Regions from separate parts of the Homo sapiens genome. Here region 2 is linked to region 1. Evidence: fine-mapped expression QTL. Tissue or cell type: macrophages. Region 1 holds a variant in brackets; the other region holds the start of a gene. All regions are shown on one strand. Distances are from middle to middle.

Evidence for each region. PIP is the estimated chance that this variant, and not a neighbour inherited with it, causes the effect.
Region 2: RPTOR starts here. The variant in region 1 is fine-mapped to the expression of RPTOR in macrophages (Nedelec 2016, PIP 0.95). The same link has a PIP of 0.9 or more in monocytes, monocytes after LPS, monocytes after Pam3CSK4 and monocytes after R848.

The regions. Positions count from the first base shown.
Region 1 is chr17:80,888,237-80,896,236 of GRCh38, reverse strand. It overlaps RPTOR (regulatory associated protein of MTOR complex 1), which reads right to left. Exons shown (of 34, transcript NM_020761.3): 18 at 4,400-4,517; 19 at 3,368-3,508; 20 at 2,372-2,530. It overlaps LOC124904075, which reads left to right and starts at 4,066. Exons shown (of 2, transcript XM_047437253.1): 1 at 4,066-5,977; 2 at 7,789-8,000. The coding sequence starts at 5,493. The coding sequence ends at 7,813. The variant T/G (reference allele first, on the strand shown) is at 4,038.
Region 2 is chr17:80,540,675-80,548,674 of GRCh38, reverse strand. RPTOR (regulatory associated protein of MTOR complex 1) reads right to left here and starts at 3,837. Exons shown (of 34, transcript NM_020761.3): 1 at 2,884-3,837. The coding sequence starts at 3,045. It also overlaps the pseudogene RPL32P31. RefSeq lists enhancers at 2,490-3,316, 3,244-3,343, 3,624-3,983, 3,317-4,143.

The sequences.
Region 1 (8,000 bases):
GATGAAGGGTCTGGGGTGGCATAAAGAAAAAATACAACCTGGATCCCCACCTCACCACAGAGACAAAATGTGGTTCAGGATATACTTAAGACATGAACACAAAAAAGGAAAATTTTAAATCTTGGAAGAAAATGTAGGAGAATATGTTTAGGACATTGAGAATAGGAAAAACAAGACACAAAAGGCCCAAGTTATAAAGAAAAAGAGAAACTAAAAGATTAAGCTTGTGTGGCACCAAAGGCATCATAAAAAGTCATAGATTAGATGCATTTTCGATGGATATATTCAGCCAGGAATCAGCACCCAGAACTGTGATGAATGCTGATTACAAACTACTCAGAGAAAGATAAACGACACAAGGCGAGTCTGTAAGGCTGCAAGGCTGTAACCTCACTGCAATCAAGGCAGATGCAAATTCATGCCACAAGGAGACACCAGGTGTGTCTATCAGACAGACAAAGGCTGGCCAAGACCGGCGTGGTAGAGAGTGGCGAGATGGGGGCGCCTGCGCTTTAGAACAGAGGATCCCGTGGAAGGCCTGGGGCGACATCTACAAAAGCTGAAGGTGCAGGCACCGTTCACGCAGCAGCTTCACTCTGAGGCAAGGTGGCGAGAGGCACTCACGTGTATCCACGCTGAAGAACACGCACCACACACGTGCCCGTTTATGTGTATTGAGCACCTACTGCGTACCAGGCACTGGGTGTGGACAGGGTGGGAGGAGACAGTGGTTAACAAGGCTGGGTTCCTGCACGTGCGGCTCTCAAGCTCCAGGGGAGAGAGATGGGCCGGGCCAATGAACAAGTTACACGTACAGCACGTCTGCAGTCCACAGTCCTCAGGAGAAAAATAAAGCAGGAAAAGGGAGCAGGGTCAGAGGGCAGCTGGGGAAGCCTGATTCCAGGTGGGGCGTGGGGCTGGGGAGGCTTCTGGGAAGGTGCTGCCAGATGGGGGCTCTGAATGAGAGGGGAGCGGCCACCATATGCCGGAGAAGAGCTTCCCCACCGATGCCCAGGCTGGGGGCCGGGTAGGCTGGGGCCCAGCAGAGCTGGGTGCAGCGAGTGAGGGTGTGTTGGATGTGGGGCTCCATGGTGGCAGGGGCTGAATTCTGAGTTTGCTTATTAAGAAAAGGAACAAAAGGCAAGAAGAAACTAGAACCGGCCTCACTGTCCCCAGACAGGAGAATGGATAATGGAGTCACGGCAGATCGCGGAGGTGAAGGAACAAAACCTAGATGACCATCAAAGATACATATTGAAGTCAGAGCCAAAGAAACGGGCTTTGCGGGCCACGCATCGTGCGACGGCGCCAATAGGAGGTAAAGGCCTCTAAGTGGGCACCACGTGTGTGCCAGGGCTCATGGCCAGGGAGGGAAAGTGTAATGTCACCAGAGGGAATGGGACCGGGGTAGGGTCTGGGGCTCGACCTCTGTAATTCCTTAAGCTGGGAACACAACACACACACACACACACGCAGCGCTCTTATATAAGTCTCTGTAAATTTTTACATGGCTAAAATGCTCCTTAACATGAAAAAAATTCAAATGAAGCCGGTAAGCCACTCTGGATAGTCAGAACAAGAGGAGATGAGGCTCATTTGGTTAAGCCCTAAATCTGTTACCAGCAGTGTGAAGATGAACATAGCTACACAATAAGAAAACACGGTGAATTCCTGCTTCTCCTGTTTTACAACAGCAATCCTGGTGGTAGGACCCAGGCACACACCATTCATGGCAGAACAAGAGAAGAATCTGACCCTTCCGTCAGATTTCCATTTCCAGGCAGTGCTGCGTCAAGCTGCTGGGATGGAGGGAAAGTTGTGTGGAGATTCCGCAGGTGAGCAGGGCGGGGATGACAGCCCCCAGCCCGACCGCAGGGCCCTCCGCCTCTCACTGCGGACACTGTGTGGGGGCTGTCCTGGGCACCAGGGGATGTGAGCAGCTTCCTGGCCTCACCCACTGGGACAAGGAGCACCCCTACTGTACCCCAGTTGCTCGTGGGGGGCAAAACCACCCCCGGCTGAGAACCACCGTTCTGCATCACCAGGGTGTCCAGCACCATGAAGAACTCTCACCCGTCTATGGAACAAAGATGGAAGGTTCTGGCAGCCTTCCCACCCAGCCAAACTGGCCAGCTCCGATGGCTCCGGAGCAGCCTGTAAAATACTACCCCAACACAACAGTGATGTCAACTTTCCCGCTTGCCCCAGCAAAACGTTCTCCCTGCCTCGCAGTCCTGTTGACCTTTATTCTTTCTTTTGAACAGACAGTTTTGACACCCACTGACCTGATGCAGACACAGGTCTGTGCTGCTCTGTGTGGGGAGGAGACCCTCGGGGCCCCTCGGAAGCAGAAAGGGGCAGGCGGACTCACCGATGAGGGAGTTGAGGGAGGAGTAGGAGCTGGCGCGGCGCATCTTGTCGATGGTCTCGAAGGACAGGATATGCTCCTCATTCTCGGGGCTGCCCAGGGTGCTGCTGGCGCTGCTGCTGGTGCTGAGGTTTCCGGGGGAGAACGCCACCGCGCCACCAGCTGCCCGAGACGCAACGGGGTCAGTGGGGTGCTCCCGGGACCCTCCTTTTGGTCTTACAGTTAATGGCATGACTGAGATACATATTTTCTTCTAAATAAAGCTCAGCACACCCAGGCACAAACACACCCTGGTACACACACACCCTGGTGCGCACACACCCTGGCATGTACACACACCCGACATACACACACCCTCATACACACACACCCTGGCGCACACACCCTGGCGCGTACAGACACAACCTGGCGCGTATACACACCCAGTACACACACCCTGGCACACACACACCCTTGTACACACACACACACACCCTGGCATGCACACACCCTTGTGCACACACACCCAGCACACACACACCCTGGCGCACACACACCTGGCGCGCGCACACACCTGGCGCACACACACACCCGGCGCACACACACCCTGGTACACACGCACCCTGGCGCACACACCCTGGCACACACGCCCCGGCGCACACACAGGCACAGGCACTCACTGATCTCCCTGGGAGCCAAGCTCCCCACCCGCAGACCACAGGTTACTGGGAGACGGGGGCAGGGCACAGCCCTCCAAGGAGCCACCGCCTCAACTGCGGCTGCGCTTGAGCTCCCTGCCGCATTGGTAACGGGCCCGCTGGCTATTCTGGGGGCTGGCCTACGCCTCCTTGCCATGCTCACGTCTGGAAGGGTGACTCATCACCATGTTGGCAGATGGGACTTCAGGGCACGCACTTAGACGAAGGGGCAGGGGCAGAGTGGTGCTTACTCAGATACAGTGTTTCAGAAAAAACAACCCCAATCTCTCCCAATCCAATAACCCGATTTCCAGGATCTTACATTCCTCTGTCAAACTCAGGTTCTGCAAAGATTTGTTGAGGCTCCTGGCTGTGGCGACAGCACGGATGTTTCCATAGGAGCTCACAGAACGAAGTCTGGGGGTGCACGGGCTGTCTCGCACTGGGGTCAAACTCCCTCCCTCTGGGAAAGAAGGAGAAAGACAAATTACAATGGGCTTCCAGGTGGAGGCCAGCGTGTCTTCTGACACTCAGCAGCTGGGACACTCGGTGACGGCAGCTGCTACCTGTGCTGCAACAAATGTCAGAGCAGGGGCTGCACAGCTCAGGGAGACTCAGACGTGAGCGGAGGCTCTGCGGGATAGCACTGGACAAACAACAACCGCTTGTGGCTCTGTGCATATTAAATTACAAAAGACAACAGGGGAGAGGCTGGTGGCTGCGGCCTGTCCGAGTGCACACGAGGTGCATGGTGACGTGGGCCGTGAGCCGTGCTCCCCGGGAAGCCGCAGCAGAGCAATGACCGTCCACACTCAGTCTGGCTCACCCTTCTCCCCTCCTGGGCTTCCTAGAAGCAGTGAGGCCTCACTGCTGATGACAAGCCCCTGCACGGCAGAGACGGCTGTGTGGAAGCGGGAGGGGCTGCCGGCAGCGATGAGATAGGAACTGTACTCTCCAGTCAAAACGACACGTGTGAGAAAGCACGCCTGACA[T/G]GACTCACCGAGCCACGGAGCCAAGAGCAGTGTGATGAAATTACTCATCGCAGGAAGACGGCCCCTGCGCTTTTCCGCAAGCTCCTACTGCAGAAGTTTTGTCATACTTCAAGGTCTCTGTGAGTTTAATTTCCAAAAAGGGTAAAAAGAAAGGAAAAATGTAAGAGGGTCAGTGTGGCCCTCTTTCCTGCCCTTTTAAATCTGGCAGGTGCCTAAAAAGATGAGAAAAACAGGGACCCCTTGCGGCAGGTATCTGAGAAACCTGCGCTTAGACTCTGCGAGGGTGAGCAAGACTGGGCCGCGGCCTGCACTAGAACCGCCAGGCGAGGTGCTCTGCGGGTTCACAGGAGAAGACGCCATACCTGTGGTTGCTGGAGAAGGCAAGGCGTAGTTCTTTTCCTCTTCTATGAACTGCAGGGCCACGGTGCAGAAATTGCTTTCATACTGAACCACAAGATGACTCAGAGCCACCACCAGCTCCTGCCGAGAGGGAGAAGGGACAATAACAGTCACTGGGGCTGGAAAATGATTGTGGAGCAGCAGTGAGACTTGAGTCACCAACAGAAAAAAGAAAGGTTAAGACAAAACCGTGCAATTGGCATCAGAAACAGGGACCATCCCTTTTCGAACCGTCAGAGCAGAGGCCTTGGAATAGCAGAGTGCTGGGAGACGGCAGGCCACTGGCTCACGGGGGAAGCCCAGAATGCCTGCCAGAATCCTCCCCACTGCTAGAGGCGCACGACGCATCGGGGGTCTCGTAAGGACACGGTGAGTCACAGGACTCCAGAGAGGGAAAGGTAGGAGGCCTCACAGCCTCTCGCTTACGGTGACCACTGGGACCCTGGCTGAAAACGCCGCTCTAGATCACACCCGATGGCTGGCGGCCTTTCTGAATCTGAGCGCCCCAGGGCCGAGTGCAGCGGACAAGCCGAAGCCTGCTCTTTTCAACACATGTGAAACTTTCATTGGTAGATGTTTCTAGTCCCTAAGAGGGAACGGGAAAAGTTGTAGAACTAAAACATCATCTTTAGGACCAAATGCCTTGGTCCAAGGGAACAGACACAATTTGCCTCTCTTTTAGGACAGTTCAGTGCTGTGACAGGAACAGCTGGAGATCCTAGAAGTCACTGGGGAACAGAAGGGGGATGTAGGTTTAAAAAGCGGAAAGAACGTTTTTTTCCCTACGACAACTTTTTCTGCCTTTTTTTTTTCTGAAAAGAAAAAATACGGATTCTTAGCAGAAAGCCAAGCGCTGTGAGAGGACCCCTTGCTAGTCGCGTGACGCCCCTGTCTCCACAGCGGCTGGATGAGCAGGCTCTGGATGGGCGCCCACCAGGGACCAGGGTCTTCTCGTGGCCACCCCACTCTCCGTCTACGCACTCTCTGTACACGCACTTTCCCACCCCAGCCTTACATGCCCCGGGCTTCCTCCTATCATGCTTTGTGGTTTCCCTGATGCCGGCCCCTCACTCTCCTAGGTCCAGGCTGGCTGTCCAGCTGCCGGCTCTTCACCTGCACCCCAAACTCTCCCTGCCCTATGAACTGCGGGCACCGTCTACTTTCCCTTCAGCCTGCAGCGCCCTCTTGATTTGCGCCGATGGAACTGCAAGTCTCTCACTGCTCAGAATGGAGCCCTGGCATCACCCTCCACCCGCCCCTCCCACCCTGCTGGGCACCAAGGGCCATGGCCCAGTGTGCGTCTTCACGGCCATGGCCCACGCCCCGGTTCTGGCGCTCGTCTCCAACTGCCTAAGTCACTGTCCCAGGCTCCCCTGGCAAACCACAGAACCCCCGCTGCCTTCCCTGTGCAAGAGGAGTGAGGCACTGCCGAGACGGGGCCTCCGACAAAGCGAACACCCACTGGGCCCCTTCCAGGGAAGATCAAGGCTGCACCTGTCTTCAGAAAGCACCGATTTTTTTCCCTTTCCTTCTGACATCAGGTGAGAAAAGCCAGAGCTGGGAGCTGGCATGGATTAACGTGCACCGAGGTGGTGGGCCCTTCGATTCAGGGGAGGCCAACAGGGGCCACGTCTGTTATTCAAGGGGAATGTCCAGAGAGCACTCACTCCCGAACACACATCCTGCTGCGCACGGGGCCTCCCTCGGGGGCCGCACATCCCTCACTCCTGAACACACATCCTGCTGCATACAGGGGCCTCCCTCACTCCCGAACACACATCCTGCTGCGTACGGGGGCCTCCCTCGGAGGCCGCACATCCTGCTGTGTACGGGGGCCTCCCTCGGAGGCCGCACATCCTGCTGCGTACGGGGGCCTCCCTCGGAGGCCGCACATCCTGCTGCGTACGGGGGCCTCCCTCGGAGGCCGCACATCCTGCTGCATACGGGGGCCTCCCTCGGAGGCCGCACATCCTGCTGCGTACGGGGGCCTCCCTTGGAGGCCGCACATCCTGCTGGAGATGGCGGGCCTCGCTCTGGAGGCTGCTGCCTGGCACACAGCAAAGAGCTCTCCTTTGCGTTGGACCCTTCCTGCCCTTCCTGAATGGAGCTGGGCTCTGACAGCAACACACACACGCACTGGCCTTCTTTAGGATATTCATGCAGAACCCATCAGAGGGTCTGGCAGAGGTGCTCAGCCAGGGGTGTGGGAGCTCCCCTCTCTCTCAGCTTTTGCAAGATGAGCTTGGCTGGTGTTGTCATGTGACCCCTTCCCCCTGAGGGCTCCCCAGCAGCACACAGACGGGGAGGCCACATTAGTGGCCACGGGCTCCACACTGGCCAGGCTTCCCAGGTCCTCTGACCGGTCGCTTGTCAAAGCCATTGTCTGTCCTCCTGCTCCCTGGCTGGGGCTGAGCAGCCTTCCTCGAAAGGGAGGCAGCTTTGCCTGGACTCATACTTTCACCTGTCAGCTCAGCCCTTCCTGTCGGCTCCCCACCTTCAGAGTCCATGCGTGATCCTGGAACCTGCTCCTTCATGGCTGGCCCCTTCAACGAGGGGCAACTCTGCTCTTCTGTTGCTCAGACCCAAACCCCCAGGATTCCCTGTCCTCTTCTTTTCTCGTACCCTCTCCACCTGTGAGCAAGTGCTGTGAGCTCCGCATTCAAAGTGCTGGTGCCTCTTCCCTCCTGCGCCGTCCCTGCAGCTGGGCGAGCGGCCCCTCTCACCTGGGCAGCCGAAGGTGAGGTCCTGCCCCCAAACCCCTCCAGGCCTCTGATCACGAACGACAAGGCTTGTGCCTGGCTGGGCCACCTGCCCCACTGCCCTCCTGGCCTCTTGTGCCCACGCCCTCTGATGGGCACAGCCCCTGCACTGGGCCTCTCCCTGTGGCAAGGCCTCCCTGTGCCCCCAGCCCCATCCATACTGGCTCTGCTCAGCTGCCACCCCGGCCCACCACTCTCACACCCAGCCCCTCCCCCAGCTCCAGGGGTAACTTTCTTGAGAGAAGAGGCAGGGTTAGTGCCCTGCGGGGTCACTGAGGCCCCAGCCGGCCCGGCACGTGGCACGTGCCTGACAAGTGTGTTCTGGGTGGGTGCAGCCCTCCCTGCAGGGGTGTCGTCTGTAGCACATGGTTAGTTTCTAACCGTGAACTGGTGCCAGGACTCAAGGACATCTTTCTTGGACACATGTCCTGCCCCGCTGGGGGCCCACACACTTCCCAGTGTTGACACGGCTGCACTGACCATGGGCTACTGGCCCACCTCGCCTCTACCCCTTGCCCACCTGCCCTGAGGGCCACCCACTCCGCTCCAACAACACAGCACTGGCTAATATTTGTCTTGTGACCTGTGCTCAGGCATCATAAAACTCAGCTCCTGTGACCACAGCAGGCCCGAGCAGCGTCCTGGGAAGCATCTTGGGAGACCAAGGCCTGGGATTACAGAGTGGATCACTTGAGCCCAGGAATTTGAGGCCAGCCTGGGGCAACACAGCGAGACCCCATCTCTACAAAAAATACAAAAATTAGCCCAGCATGGTGGCACGCGCCTGTGGTCCCAGCTACTCAGG
Region 2 (8,000 bases), 350 kb after region 1:
AGGGCCAGGTGCTGTGGCTCACACCTGTAATCCCAGCACTTTGGGAGGCTGAGGCAGGTGAACGACCCGAGGTCAGGAGTTCAGGACCAGCCTGGCCAACATGGTGAAACCCCATCTCCACTAAAAATACAAAAAAAACTAGCCAGGCGCCTGTAATCCCAGCTACTTGGGAGGCTGAGGCAGGAGAATAGCTTGATCCTGGGAGGCGGAGGTTGCAGTGAGTCAAGACCACACCACTGCACTCCAGCCTGGGCAACAAGAATGAAACTCCATCTCAAAAAAAAAAAAAAAAAAAAAAAAAAACCACCCCAGGCTGAGCGTGTTGGCTGATGCCTGTAATCCTAGCATTTTTGGAGGACAAGGCAGGAGGATTGCTTGATCCCAGGAGTTCAAGACCAGCCTGGGCAACACAGTGAGACTCCCCAACCCCAGACACACTGGCGCACACTTATAGTCTCAGCTACTGGGGAGGCTGAGGTGAGAGGATCACTCAGGCCCAGGAGGTCGAGGCTGCAGTGAGCCGTGTGATCTCACCACTGTACTCCAGCCTGGATGACAGAGCAAGACCCTGTCTCAAAAAAAAAAAAAAAAAAAAAGAAACAGAAAAACACTCCACAAATGGGGTTGTTCAGCCTGCAGTGTTGGACTACAGTGTGTTTGGTAATAAATCTGAATTAGTATGAATATTTACAATAAAAGAAAAAAAAAGTTTGCTGACTTCTCAAAGACAAAGAGAGAGGCCTGGCCATAGCCCAGTTGCCCCTTCAGTTATGGCATCAGGGAGCCCCTGTTCCCACCCTCCAGAAACTGTCACACACACTGTGCCAAATGTCAGCTGCCATTTGTCTTTATCTTTGAACCTATGCCATTATTCTTCTTAAATGTGGCCTGTTTCATTCTCTTATGCTACCATCCCCACTCAATATCATTTGAGTTTGCAACTTCTGTCCTATAGCATGTGTGATACGGTCCTTGAGGGAAGAGATGACAAGATTCCAAAGGACCTGACCTTTGGAAGAGGGAAGAGATGACAAGATTCCAAACTCCCACACACTCAACTGAAGATGTTAGCTGCTGATTTTCTCCACCGAAAAACAGATACAGCAAACTTTCTCCCCAGCTCCTTTCTAAGCAGCAATCTCAGTAGTCACTAAGAGTCACAGAACTTTTGTTTCTCTTAACAACCTGTGAAAAGCTTATTAGGGAATGTTGATCATTCACAAATTAATGTTTTAATTAAAAGGTCAAACGTATACCCATTAATCAGTTTCAAACTGTTGGAACATAGGTTTAGGACAGCAGAGAGAACCACATTTCAAAATAACAACAACAAAAAAACTGCCCTCCACAAAGAATTTTTTAAAAAGTCTTTTCATATATGTATAGCAACCACAAAAGCTTTTAACTATATAGTTACTACTAAAGATGTCCATAAGATAGAATTTATACAACCTCCCCCAATGACTAACTTATTTAACTCCTTAAAATGCTTTTGGATGAAACAAATTTTCCTAACCTTTTAGAAGTAAGCCAAGTCAGTAGCTAACTGGTTACTACTGACTGACTGACTAGAGTTACCAGAAGTTTTATTTATTTATTTATTTTTGAGACACAGTCTCACTCTGTCCCCTAGGCTGGAGTGCAATGGTGCGATTTCGGCTCACTGCAACCTCTGCCTCCCAGGTTCAAGCGATTCTCCAGCCTCAGCTTCTCGAGTAGCTGGGATTACGGGCACCTGCCACCAAGCCCAGCTAATTTTTGTATTTTTAGTACAGACAGGGTTTCACCATGTTGGCCGGGCTGGTCTCAAACTCCTGACCTCAGGTGATCCGCCTGCCTTTGGGAGGCCTGCCTTGGCCTCCCAAAGTGCTGAGATTACAGGCGTGAGCCACCGCGCCCAGCCCAGAAGTGTAATCTTATATATGTTCAACATCATATACTAAAAAACAATAATATTCCATAAACATATACATAAGCCTAGAGAAAATCAAACATTGTAACACCAACTTCCTCTTTTATACCACTGAAATGTGCAAATAAAAGCAGCCTGGAGGGAGAAAATAACTTACAAAAAGACAAATTATAAGTGTGCATAGAGGAGAAGCAGTACTACCCTTTTGCTTTTGAGGCCAGGAAATAGATGGGTGTTTTATGAAGGACAAATCCAACAAAATTCGGCTGTTTTCTTTCCTACCAGCTGCTTGTGAGTCACTCTCCACACTCCAAACACCATGCGGACACCCTAAAACCTGCACCCAAGTCTCGACGCCTCATACCCTAACTCACGATTAAAGAAATCCTGTTTCCAAGTTACAGCAACAGGACACTACATAAAAGGAGGAAAATCTAGCTTCAAGAGAAATTGTTTAGAAGACTAGAATGAAGTTCAGTGTAACTTTATAATAACTTTGCACTAATTTGTTACTAGTTGAACATTTTCCAGTAATCTCATTTCCTAGCATAGTATATCAGACTTCTGCACTTCACCCAGCTTGGATATTTTAAAAAGTAGACTAATCATGTGGGTATAAAGATTATATCGCACGTTGTCCTTCCTCTAAGTGTTTACAGAACTAAGTAGTATGCCAAAGAGCATGTAAATACTCGCAATGCTCTATTTTCAAATTTGCTTAACTTTTATTATCTGAATTAGAACTTAGTTGGAATTGAATTAACACTACCCAGTGAATAATGACTAACCAAAACAGCATTTTCCATTTTCAACCAAAAACTGCAGTCTGAAATGGCTTTTGCTTTCTAGTTGACTTACAACGTGTGGCTAGGGGGAAATGTCGGCGCTTTCCCAAGGACACTTTTCGGGCTGTAAACTTTCTTTGTTGGGGAAACTACCAAGTTCAAGGGGTGCCTTCAGAATCCACTTACCCGATCCTTCATCCTCCAGCTCTGAGCTAAGGATTTGGAGCCTTCAATTTTCTCACAGTGCCTCTTTTTCATAAAAGCCAAAGGTAGGTTCCAGTCTGTAAGATCAGCCTCATCTTCCTCCCCCAGGCCCAGAAGAGGCGATTGCAGCATTTCGGACTCCATCAGTGGGGGAGGGGGTGGGGGAGTCCTTGGCAGCAAGCGCTCGAGAACCTCCAGCCTTAAAAACTAGCGTGTACCAGAATTGGTGAAATAAGAAACAAAAACGGGAAATCGAAAACCAAATGGATAAAGAGTGCGGAGACCCTTACTCAGGCAAAAGTCTGAGATCCTTATCTCTAACTCTGAGCGGGAAGTGGGGAGGTGGGGGCCGCTAGGAAATGGGGCAGCCCAAGAAGCTCCGCAGACACACACCACCCCAGGTCCCAAGCCACTGGCTGCTCCTGAGGCTGTACGTTTCCAGAGGGGCTGCGAGGGGAGCTGCCAAAAGCGTAAGAGACTTCAGGCCTCACGATGACCCTGCTCTCGGCCTCCACCGCCTCAGCAGTTCCGAAGACAGGCAGGCCGCTCTTGGTGCCGGTTCGCCCACTGGGCCGACTGGGCTGAGGTCTCCGGCCAAGGGATCGGGTTCAAAGGGCCCTGGGTCTCCTCCAGCCACTCTCAGCCCTGCGGGTCCCGCACTCGTCTGAGCTGCTGCAACCAGAGCCACGACCGGCCCATCGTGCTCGCCTGCACCCGGTTCCTCAACCTCAGGTCCGCGCGGCCTGGCTGGTCCTGGCCTTCAGCCCCGAGGCTCTCTCCTGCCTGAGAACGAGTCCTGAGAAACGGGCGACACGGAACCACGGAGGAAAGGGACAATGTGGGCTTATTGGGTCATGGGAGCTTTGCCCTCTGGTTTGGAGCTACAGTGAAACTCATCTCATCAGCCCATCAAGGAGGACGCCATATTGCCAGGACCCAGAATGCACCGCGGCCTACGGCGTGGCCGACAGACCAAACCTCCTCAGAGCGGTCTCTCCCCGCCACCCAGCATGCAGCGAAGGAGAAAGAGTCCCCGACCCCGTTACCTCGGTTACCATAATTCCGTTTTCCCCAGTTAATCGCCATTTGTTCAGTAGAGGCGTGTTATTAAAGTCAATCCTACAAATGAAACTGTCGGTTTAATTTATTTTTTCAAAAACATTGTCATTATAAATGAAGTTACATGCTCCTGAAATTAAAGGAATCAACCGCCTTGTTTCTTCCAGATTTTGAAAAAGCGGCAAAAGCTTCACTGATAATATTAGAAAATATTAAAAAGCACTGATAATATTAGAAAATATAGTACTTTTTTTTTTGGAGTGTAGTGTCCTCCACAGTGTCAATCAGATTTTCTCTTTAATTTTTTCATAGAGAACCAAGTGAAAGGCCGGGCGCCGTGGCTCACGCCTGTAATCCCAGCACTTTGGGAGGCCGAAGCGGGCAGATCACGAGGTCAAGAGATCGAGACCAGCCTGGCCAACATGGTGAAACCCCGTCCCTACTAAAAATACACAAATTAGCTGGGCGTGGTGGTGCGCGCCTGTAATCCCAGCTACTCAGGAGGCTGAGGCAGGAGAATTGCTTGAACCCGGGAGGCGGAGGTTGCAGTGGGCCAAGATCGTGCCACTGCACTCCAGCCTGGGAGACAGAGCAAGACTCTTCAGATGAAGAAGGGTCTGAAGCAACAGAAGAAGAGTCTGGAGCAAGATTCGATGAAAAAAAATTTCATCTAATACAATTTTTTGTTTAATCTGTTTCGTTTTCTGAGCAGTTTATCCTTTTTAAATTTTTTTCCCACTTCTTGGTAGCAGTAGTTTATTCTTATTTTGATATAGCTTCACGTGCAGACATCTAAAACTACATGTCTGTGCGTGGAGGCAAGCCTCTTGTGTGACTCTCTTTTTCAATTCAGGAAATTTGGCTCATTTACAATGTATAGAGAACTGTGTAAGGTGGACTATAAAACCAAATGTAGGCAGGGCACCGTGGCTCACGCCTATAATCCTAGCCCTTTGGGAAGCCGAGGAGGGTGGATCACGAGTTCAGGAGTTCGAGACCAGCCTGGCCAACATGGTGAAACGCCGTCTCTAATAAAAATACAAAAATTAGCTGGGCGTGGTGGCGTGCGTCTGTAGTCTCAGCTGCTCGGGAGGCTGAGGCAGGAGAAGAGCTGGAACCTGGGAGGCAGAGGTTGCAGTGAGCCGAGATTACACCACTGCATTCCAGCCTGGGTGACAGAGTGAGATTCCATCTCAAAAATAAATAAATAAATAAATAAATAAATAAGAATAAAACGAGGCCAGGCGTGGTGGTGCACGCCTGTAATCCCAGCACTTTGGGAGGCTGAGGTGGGTGGATCATGAGGTCAGGAGTTCAAGACCATCCTGGCCAAGATGGTCTTGATCTCTCAGGATGGTTTTCCGGGGCTTAGACACATGTGGCCATCCATATCAAAATCTTGATGGCATTTGTGTTCCTTTCAAAATGAGAATGAAGAATACAATCCCAGACCTTTCTCACCCAGCACAAAGCAAGCCTTTAATAAAGGCTACAGGATTAAATCATTGTCATTCCGCACATTCGTTTGGTTATTACACCCCATGGAGCCAATTCTCCTATTGAAACTCAGGGCACCCTCTCTGTTGGCAGAGACTATCCTCACAGTTACCAGCAGAGGCTTCAGGGATGCAGGGTCTTAGGAAGACCCCGTTCTCATCTGAAGGCAACAAAATCACTCCTGTCCTCTGCCTTGTCACCTTGCTCCCCACCTCCGGTGGCTGTAGACAGCTGCATTCCAGCAGCTCTTGCAGGAAGTCACAGTTACAGAAAAGCAGCAACGCTAAACCCATTCATCCCTAACTAGCTCTGTGACCTGGGAAAGCCCACTGAATCTGTGTGAGACTCAGTTTCCTCACCTATAACGTGTGTGACCTTGGGAAATCCATTTTTCGTATCTGAAATTCTAAACGAAGGTGTCAGTGAGCACGTTGAAGTCCAAACCCACCAGGTGGTCAGAATCGCCCAGGAAACTAAAATTCAGGATGCCCAGCTTCCAACCCAGAGCCCCAGATCGGGGAGCAGGGAGACCGGGATTCAGAATCTGCATTTTTTTTTTTTTGCAGTTTTTACAGTTTTATTTAAACACAAAACATGCACATGAGCTGTCTGCTCGTTTTCTTCACTGCGCAGACTGGCATGGGGGTCAGTGACTCTGATGGCCAGCTGGGCGGCTCTTTCTGTGGTGGCTTCGCGGTTCCTGGAGGAAACACTGTGAGCGATCTCAGCGCAGTAAGAAGTGTTGTACATCAGCAGCACTTCCAGCTCCTTGACGTTGTAGACTGAACTTCCAGAAGCCAGTGGGCAGCGTGTGCTTTGTTTTTTTGTTGCTCCCATAACCAATGTTGGGCATCAAGATCTGGCCCTTGAACCTTCTACCAACCCTGTTGTCAATACCTCTGGGTTTCTGCCAGTTACGCTTAATCGTGACACATCGGTCTGACTGGTGCCGGATGAACTTCTTGGTTCTCTTTTTGATGATCTTGGGCTTCACAGGGGGTCTGAGGGCGGCCATGATGCCAAGGAGGAGATGGCTGCCCCCTCCATAGGCAGCGCCAAGGAAGAGAGCCAGAATCTGAATTCTTAAATCAGGTCGCTCTGAGGATAGTTCACAGCCAGGCAGACTTGGAGGTCTTAGACAATATTCGCTCTAAAGTCTCCTGCAGTGATTCAGTTCGGGTCCCATATTGGGCCCTTAATCAATATGTGTGGCAAATGAATGAATGCTATGAAGTAATTGTCCAGACTTCCATCTGACAAAGCAGAAAGAGACTCACCTTCTCCTCAAAACAGCAGAACAAAACACACCCTCTACTGTTTAACACATGTGACCCCGAGCCAGGGGTCCACTCGGGTCCTGGACTGAGGATGAAGACACACACACATTCTATGGTCCCCAACCTGCCACCAATTCCTGCAGATTTCAGCAAAGCCTCTGCCCTCCTCCACCCTTGGTCTCCACGTCTGTGACATCAGGAACTTGGAGAAGGCGAATTTCTAAGGATCCTTCCAGTTTGAAATTCTGTGATTCATGTAAAGACCAGAAAGGGGCTTGTGACTGCTCAGCTCTCACCCTGAAGGTTCAAGGATGGGCCTGAATCATTTTATGGCATCTTGACATTTAAAAGAAACCTCGTTCTAGTATGTCACGGATGATTCTCTTCAAGTCCCAGCCAAGCATTTGGAAGTGGCTCTAGGTTTTTGAAAGGCAGTGAGCATCTGTGAGTAATGGCAGCCTGGAAATTCAAGGGCTGACTTGTCTCACCTGGGTGATTCCATGACTGTGGCATGTGGTGGGCTGGCCACTCGGGGCTGCAGTTCCAATTTCCAATGTCTCCAGTTCTTCACAAGCAAGGACATCTATTGTCCACAGAGACTTTAAATAAGATCCTTTTTTTTTTTTTTTTTTTTTGAGACAGAGTCTTGCTCTTGTCGCCCAGGCTGGAGTGCAGTGGCGCAATCTTGGCTCGCTGCAACCTCCGCCTCCCGGGTTCAGGCGATTTTCCTGCCTCAGCCTCCCGAGTAGCTGGGATTACAGGTGCCCGCCACCACGCCTGGCTAATTTTTGTAATTTTAGTATAGACGGGGTTTCACCATGTTGGCCAGGCTGGTCTTGAACTCCTGACCTCAGGCGATCCACCCGCCTTGGCCTCCCAAAGTGCTGGGATTACAGGCATGAGCCACCGTGTCCAGCTAAAATACTTTAATCTTAAAAACAAAATGTTAGGAATCTCAGAAAACACACAAACCTGGTTTGATTCAAGCTATGAAAACGGTCATGACCAGCCTGGGCAAAATAGTGAGACCCTGTCTCTACCAAAAAAAAAAATTTAATATTTATACCTGTGGTCCCAGCTACTTGTGAGGTTGAAGCAGGAATTTGAGCCCAGGAATTTGAGGCTTCAGTGAGCTATGATTGCACCACGGCACTCCAGCCTAGTCAGTAGACCAAGATCCCATCTTAATTTTTAAAAAATGCAGAAATTAAGAAAGAAAGTGGGGGAGGGTGTTGGCAACAACCTGCTCCATGAGTCTCTTACAGT